2 linked regions of the Homo sapiens genome follow. The protein of the gene in region 2 interacts with the protein of the main gene of each other region in a pairwise test. Each region holds a gene or a part of one and is shown on either strand. Other genes may lie near its edges.

Region 1 (3,821 bases), on a different chromosome or scaffold from region 2:
ATGCAATCATTCTATTTCTTCCCCGGCCTCTTATGTCAAGTGCGTTGTGCTCTCAGCAGTAAATACTTCATTAAGTTTTCTAAACTCATGGCAAAATGTTTGATCACAATATTCATCTTCTTTATGGCAATATTTTAGGTTACTGTTCTTCATCTGTCCTTTGTTTTTCTGTTTCTTTCTTCCTTTTTTATTTCCAAACATTTGTGGCAGTCAAGCTTAATGAATTCCTTTTGATTATTCATCTCTGAAGAAGTGCTGGTTGTCCAGAACCTGATATTTGTAGGAGGTTTATGCAGAAGGCCAGAGTGCCTCCAGTTCTGGACTGACAACTTTTTCGTGATTCAGAGATTTACCTAAGAGACAGTTTAGCATTTTACTTCTCAACAGCCAATGCAGACAGGCAGTCTGGAGGTTTTTCACAATGCAGTCATCTCCTCCCCAACTGCTATAGAGATAGACACATATTACTTCCTGCAAAAATGGCTTGTTTATGTGACTCCTTGTTTGGCTTCATTTCCCCGACTTCTTAGAATTAAACCAGGTGCAGGAAAGCTCCTGCCTTGAGCTGAAGAAACCCACTTCACTTTTGTAAACAAGGGGTTTAGGTTTTATACCTCAGGGGGGCCTTGCAGTTTCATGGGTGTTTCTTGTTGTCTCTGAGCTCCACAGCCACGGCATCCTACCTACTTCTTCCCACATGCAGCCAGCCTGATGGCCACTGCTCCTGGCAACATTTCCACCTATTTTGTGGCTTGGGGTTTTTAACTGTCTTCTAGTTTAGTGGAATGCTGGGTTTGTGTGTCAGTTTTTCCCTCTCTTTGTTGTTTTTAGCTAATTGCCAAGAAAGAAGAATGCTAACTTTATAGTACCATCTGCAAATCCCAAATCCAACAATTATCTTAAAAGAGTATTTTATGCAAGACAGAAACTTAAGTGTCTCACTAAGTTACTAAAAGGTAACAATACACTTTCCTTACTACTATTTTACTGTGGGGTAAAATACCAATTTTCATAAAACACTAATTTTCACAAGGCCATTAAGTAATTGTTTTTATGTTTAAAACTCATGTGTGGGCTGGGCGTGGTGGCTCACACCTGTAATCCTAGCACTTTGGGAGGCTGAGGCGGGTGGATCACTTGAGGTCAGGAGTTCAAGACCAGCCTGGCCAATATAGTAAAACCCCATCTCTACTAAAAACATAAAAATTAGCAAGGCATGGTGGCACACACCTGCAATCCCAGCTTCTTGGGAGGCTGAGGCAGAAGAATCACTTGAACCTGGGAGGCGGAGATTGCAGTGAGCTGAGATCATGCACCACTGCACTCCGGCCTGGGCAACACAGCGAGACTCTTGTCTCCAAAAAAAAAAAAAAAATATATATATATATATATGTTATTACCTAAGGCTGAAAGTAATCTGATGCTTCAATGTAAAAGATATTTTGTTCAACATATTCAAGATCTAGGGCCTATTTGGGGAACAAATTACATATATTTTCACCAGCATACTATAATCTTAGTATTTGTCTTTGCAGAAGACAAAGCCTTTTTAGTAATAAAGACAACCCACGATTTGTCATGCCACAAGTCCCCAAATTCCATTTGGGTTTGTAATGAAGACAGTTAATATTATATGTATGTTCATTCCTTCAGTAAAATTTTAACTTTAGGCAAGTTTATTTTCCTGCCAGTTGCTACTGCTCTCCTCCTGGCTAGCCAATACCAATACGTACTCAGGCAGGTTCTGACCAAAATAAGGTTTTACTACTAAGTAATTTTTTATAGGAGTAAATAATACACCAGTATGGGCACAGTGGCTCACACCTATAATCTCAACACTTTGGGAGGCCCAAGGTGGGTGGATCACTTGAGGCCAGGAGTTCAAGACCAGACTGGCCAACATAGCAAAACCCATCTCTACTAAAAATACAAAAATTAGCCAGGTGTGGTGGTGCATGCCTGTAGTCCCAGCTACACAGGAGGCTGAGGCACCAGAATCACTTGAATGGGGAGGTGGAGGCTGCAGTGAGCCAAGGTTGTGCCACTTCACTCCAGCCTGGGCAACAGAGCAAGACTGTGTCTAAAAATAAATAAATAAAATTAAATAATAATAATTATTATTATAATACAACAAAGCCAAATTACAATGGATTTTGAATTCGTGTTTTAAATGATTCCCTTTCCTATGACACAAATAAGAGTAAATCTGTAAATCTTAATATCATGCAAAAGCTAAGTAATGCCTAATTTATTGAAAATTTAGAGGCACCATGAGTTCATATGAAGAAAAAGAAACAAACAAACATGAGCTCCTCCTGAGCTGGGCATGGTGGTACATGGCTGTAGTTCCAGCTACTTGGGAGGCTGAGGCAGGAGGATCACTTGAGCCCAGGAGTCTCAGGCCAGCCTGGGCAACACAGTGAGACACTGCCTCACAAAAAAAGAAAAAAAAAGAGCTCTTACTTACAGAATTCCAAACAAGATACATAGACAGAGTGATGGCATTTTAAAAAAATCCCCATTTGATAACCATCACAGTTGGAATGAAAAGATCATATACTGTCCTTATCACTTGTCACAGGCAAGAATTATCAATGGATGCTACAACAGGAGGGCAAAAAGTGTAAGAAGGAGGATACCTATACAGTCTCAATGTATCTCTCTACAAGAAATATATTAGTTATGAAGGGAAAAATAATAACTTCACTGACACTATGTTCTGAAAAACACTTCTGTGGAATTGCTGCCAAAACTGCATAACCTGAATCTAACCGTTAAGGACATACTGGACATACACAAATTGAGAGACATTCTACAAAATAATTATTTACTCTTCAAAAATGTCAAGGCCCTGAAAAGGCAAATAAAGACTGAAGAATTGCTGATTAAAAGAGGCTGAAGAGGCTCGACGCGGTGGCTCACACCTGCAATCCCAGTACTTTGGGAGGCCGAGGTGGGTAGATCACTTGAGGTCAGGAGCTCAAGACCAGCCTGGCCAACATGGTAAACCCCGTCTCTATCAAAAATACAAAAAAAAATTAGCCAGGCGCAGTGGCATGTGCCTGTAGTCCCAGCTACTTGGGTGGCTGAGGCAGGAGGATCACTTGAACCTGAAAAGTGGAGGTTGCACTGAGCTGAGTTGGTGCCACTGCACTCAGCCTGAGCGACAGAGCTAGACTCTGTCTCGAAAATAAATTAATTCATTAATTAAATGAAATAAAAGAGGCTAAAGAGAAATAACTAAAATCAGTGTATGATCCTGGACCCGAAACAATTATTTGTCTTTTGCTATATGGGACATTAATGGGACAACTGATAAAATCTGTGTATAGACAATAAAATGTATCTATGTTCATTTAAGAAATACACATTAAAGTATGCAGACGTTGAAGACATCATGTCTACAATCTACTCTCATTTTTTTAAAAAAGAATACTGTGTGTAGAGAGAGAATGATAAAGCAAATGTGACAAACATTAACATCTGGAGTAATTTAATAGGATACATAAGAATTATTTGTGCTATTTTTACAAATCTTTGAGTCTGAAATTGTTTCACAATAAAATTTTAAAAATAGACATACAATCAATGAAAACAAATAAAGCCAGTTAACAGAAACTCTTTATTTTCCCTAACAATAATGCTAGGATCATCTTTACTATATTCTCCTCATCAGATCATGAAATTTTAACAAAACCTCCCAATTTACAGATGAAGTTAGTAAGTTAAGTGACTTCATCAAGATTACATGTAATTCAAGGCAAAGTCAACCAAGACTATTATCTAGCTCTGACTCAGCTCAGCTACCTTTCAACTATTCC
Region 2 (3,821 bases):
ACTTAAAAAGTAGAGACAGGCATGGTGGCACATGCCTGTAGTCTCACCTACTTAGGAGGCTGAGCTAGGAAGATCACTTGAGCCCAGGAGTTGGAGTCCAGCCTGGGCAACATGGCAAGACCCTGTTTTTTAAAAAAATAAAATAAACAAAACCCAAAACAAAAACAAAAAACCTTAAAGTCAATAACCTCAATTTTTAACAAATTCAATATGGCTTTCATAAAGGAACTGTTGAAAGAGATGATCCAATATTACACAATTATCTGTGGGACTAACTCTTTTTTTTTTGAAATAGAGTCTTGGTCTGCTACCCAGGCTGGAATGCAGTGACATGATCTTGGCTCATTGTAACCTCCACCTCCTGGGTTCAAGCAATTCTCCTATCTCAGCTTCTTGAGTAGCTGGGATTACAGGTGTGTGCCATTACGCCCAGCTAACTCTTTAGAAGGTACTATTACTATAACATTTGAGAGACTAACATCTTTCCCACAGACAATGGGAGGTAGGAAGTTATTGACAGTGTTTTTGGAAAAAGCACAAACAAATTGTTCTTGGAACAGGAACCAAAGCTATTAATATGGTAAGCCATTCTCCAAAAAACTGTAACCAAGTAGTATCCTCGAAAACAGAATTATTAATAGGACTTTGCCAGATTCTGTTAAAGGTGATCTAAACAAAATACAGAGATACCGGAAGTACGGTAGTCAGGAATGGGAGCAAATTAACATAGATTCGGTATATATATTAAATGCCAGTCTCCTTCCATGTCATCACATTTTATCTTCATTACACCTCTGTAAGACAGAATTAATTTCTGTGTTTAGAGATGAAAGACTAAGGCTCAGAGAGATAAAGTATATTAGTGCCCAAGATGACACAGGTAGTCAGGGTGAATCAGGAATTTAAATCTGGTTTAATCTAAAGTTTTATTTTTATTTTTAGTTTTTTATTCTTTCTACTCTATCATACTGTCTTTTTCATATGAAAAAGGTCAGGAACCTGGAAACCTAGATACCCTTGGATACTCTTTTACTCTATTTCTCAACCGAGCTCTCTGCCCACTGAATGGCACCAGGAGTCCCACCTGCCTGGAATGCCTGTTTCTAGACACACTTCATAATTTCCTGAGACCTGCTCACTCACGTTAAGACGCTTGCTGGCATCATCTGGGACTCGGGTGCTGCCTCTATCAAGGACTGCCAGGTATTTGTGGAGTTAGGGATCACAAAGCCAAACTCGAAGAACCATTCTGAAGGAAGAAGGAAAAGCCGGGGTGAGCAGGTGCCCCAGTATAAAGTTTAAGGGCTCTTTGTCTCCCTCTCTAGAGTGAGCCTCTTCCTACCCTGAGAACCACCAAAGGAAGCTATCAGCAACCTCTCAGACCAGGGGCGTAAAAAAGACAGGGAAGCCTGCTCAGGTTGTCCTCTGAACCACACCAAAGGCTTGCTTCTCATGCTTTGAGGTCTAAAGGACTAGGACCAGCGAGCAGGACACAATATAAGCAGCATTTTCTTAGAGGTAGGCTAGATGTGAACTATATATAGATACATAGTTAAATTCACTTGGAATTAGCTTGAAGGGGCTTATGTGCCCTTTACACTGCATGGTGAGAATTCAATGCAGAGTGGCCTTGCCAGTCAAATCTGTATGATACTGTATGTAGAGCACTGTACTAGGCCCTGCTCATAGCAGCTTCCTCCATGATCATATCACAATACAACGTCAGTGCCTAAACCAGGCACCACCATCCACGCTCCCAGTGTCAGAGACCTCAAAGCCCCTTGTAGTGGCTAGCTTTGTTTTGGTTTGTTTCACTGGGGATTCACAGTCTTGCAGAGTGTAGGAATCCTACCACAAACTGAGTTGTAAAAGGAATGTTATCAAAGCACTGCTTTAGTTCACTGGGTATTGTTGCCTTTTGTCCTGGTCGCCCTAAGCCCTGATTTCAGGCATGTAGGCAGCAGAATACCTTCTAGGCATTGCCCTTTGAAGTAAACTTTTTGTTCCAGGCGGAATTTTTCCATTTGTTCTGTCGAAGAAAAATTAAGTTCTCGAGACACTGCCTTGCACTTGAGGATTTTCTTGGGAACACGGGCTGGTAAGAGAAAAACAAATGTTGAAGCCTTTCTAAATGAAAACCACAGGACTATGATGCTTCAAATTTCTGGGAGCTTCTTACAGCTGATTTAGAGAACACTTTCTTACAGCTGATTTAGAGAACACTTTCTTACATTTTGGATAATGCCTTGGTAAGTGCATTACACTTTGTGTGGCTGAAAGCAGAGGTCTCTAATTGGTCACCCGTATCTGAAAGATATTAGATCTTCAAGGAACACCAGGTTTTGTGCATCTAAGGGCCTCATCTAACTACTCTCATCAGGAAGGGGGCTGCATGGGTACCTTCTCTCTACTCTGTTCTGGTGATTTTAACCCCTTCCTTCTTCTTTACTTCAGGGAGATAAAAATGCAAATTTTCTTTTGGAGAAAAAGTTGAGATCTTAGTTTCTATCTTTGGGTATGTTCTAATGGTAAAATATCAGCACAAAATGGGTTTTGGGAAGTGAGAGAAAGAACTGTTAAGAAAGTAACTGGCTGGGCGTGGTGGCTCACACCTGTAATCCCAGCACTTTGGGAGGCTGAGGCGGGCAGATCACTTGATGTCCGGAGTTCGAGACCAGGATGGCCAACATGGTGAAACCCCATCTCTACTCAAAATACAAAAATTAGCCAGATGTGGTGGCGCACGCCTGTAGTCCCAGCTACTCGGGAGGCTGAGGCATGAAAATCGCTGGAACCTGGGAAGCAGAGGTTGCAGTGAGCCAAGATCACACCACTGCATTCCATCCAGCCTGGGTGATAGAGCAAGACTGTGTCTCAAAAAAAAAAAAAAAAAAAAAAAAAGAAAGTAACTGAAACTGTCAACAACACATGGATTAACATGCTGTGTCTTCAGGGGCTCACCCGCCTATTAGGTATGTGTTAACTTAGCTCTCTTATGCTCAGGTGCTAGTCTGGCATTGGTCACAGCCCTGTGTAGATAAAGGGTTGGAAAGTACCTTCATGCTCCACACCAGGGACAGACAGGTCTTCTGTTCCTTGCCAGAGTATCTTCCCTGTCTCAGCATCCCGAAGGTTCATCCAATTTCTGATCAAATATGACTAAGGAAAAATAAGGCACTGAAAGTGACTCCCACTTTGTATTCTAGGTGTCTCATGTTTACTCCCACCAACTCTTGTTTACTTTTTAAAAAGTTTGTCAAACTGCTCATTGCCATGGAAGCACATAAGAATGTGAGGAGAGTCAAAAAGACATCTAAAGGAAGAAGCAGAAACCTAGAGAAGTTACTTTTATCTATGAGAATCCTAAGACTGCACACACCTAGAGACTGCAAGAAAGGGACAGAAAACGAATAGTGCAAAATTTAAAATTTACCAACAGGATCTGACCAACCAAGATAAAATACCTAAAGAAACAAATATCAGATGTACCCCAAGGAAACAACTCATGAAGATCACTCTATAGTGAATGCCACAGTCCATAAACTTCACCCACAAGCACAGAACTCTCAAATTGCTTTGTAGTGGCCCCCTCTGTTTTTTTTTTTTGAAACAGAGTCTCACTCTGTCACACAGGCTGGAATGCAGTGGCACAATCTCGGCTCACTACAACCTTCATCTCCTTGGTTCAAGCAATTCTTGTGCCTCAGCCTCCTGAGTAGCTGGAATTATAGGAGCACGTCACCAAGCCCAGCTTATTTTTGTATTTTTAATAGAGATGGGGTTTCACCATGTTGGCCAGGCTGGTCTCGAACTCCTGACCT

Evidence for each region.
Region 1: the proteins of PDE6D (region 2) and RAB18 interact in a two-hybrid assay, tested with the Homo sapiens proteins (one large-scale study listed by BioGRID and IntAct).

Annotation. Positions count from the first base shown.
Region 1 is NC_000010.11:27,510,587-27,514,407, reverse strand, and holds part of RAB18 (ras-related protein Rab-18), read right to left. Parts: intron 1-3,821. UniProt on the Homo sapiens protein: The small GTPases Rab are key regulators of intracellular membrane trafficking, from the formation of transport vesicles to their fusion with membranes.
Region 2 is NC_000002.12:231,736,044-231,739,864, forward strand, and holds part of PDE6D (retinal rod rhodopsin-sensitive cGMP 3',5'-cyclic phosphodiesterase subunit delta), read right to left. Parts: intron 3,160-3,821; coding exon of another isoform or gene 3,146-3,159; coding exon 3,057-3,145; intron 2,096-3,056; coding exon 1,970-2,095; intron 1,250-1,969; coding exon 1,144-1,249; intron 1-1,143. UniProt on the Homo sapiens protein: Promotes the release of prenylated target proteins from cellular membranes. Modulates the activity of prenylated or palmitoylated Ras family members by regulating their subcellular location.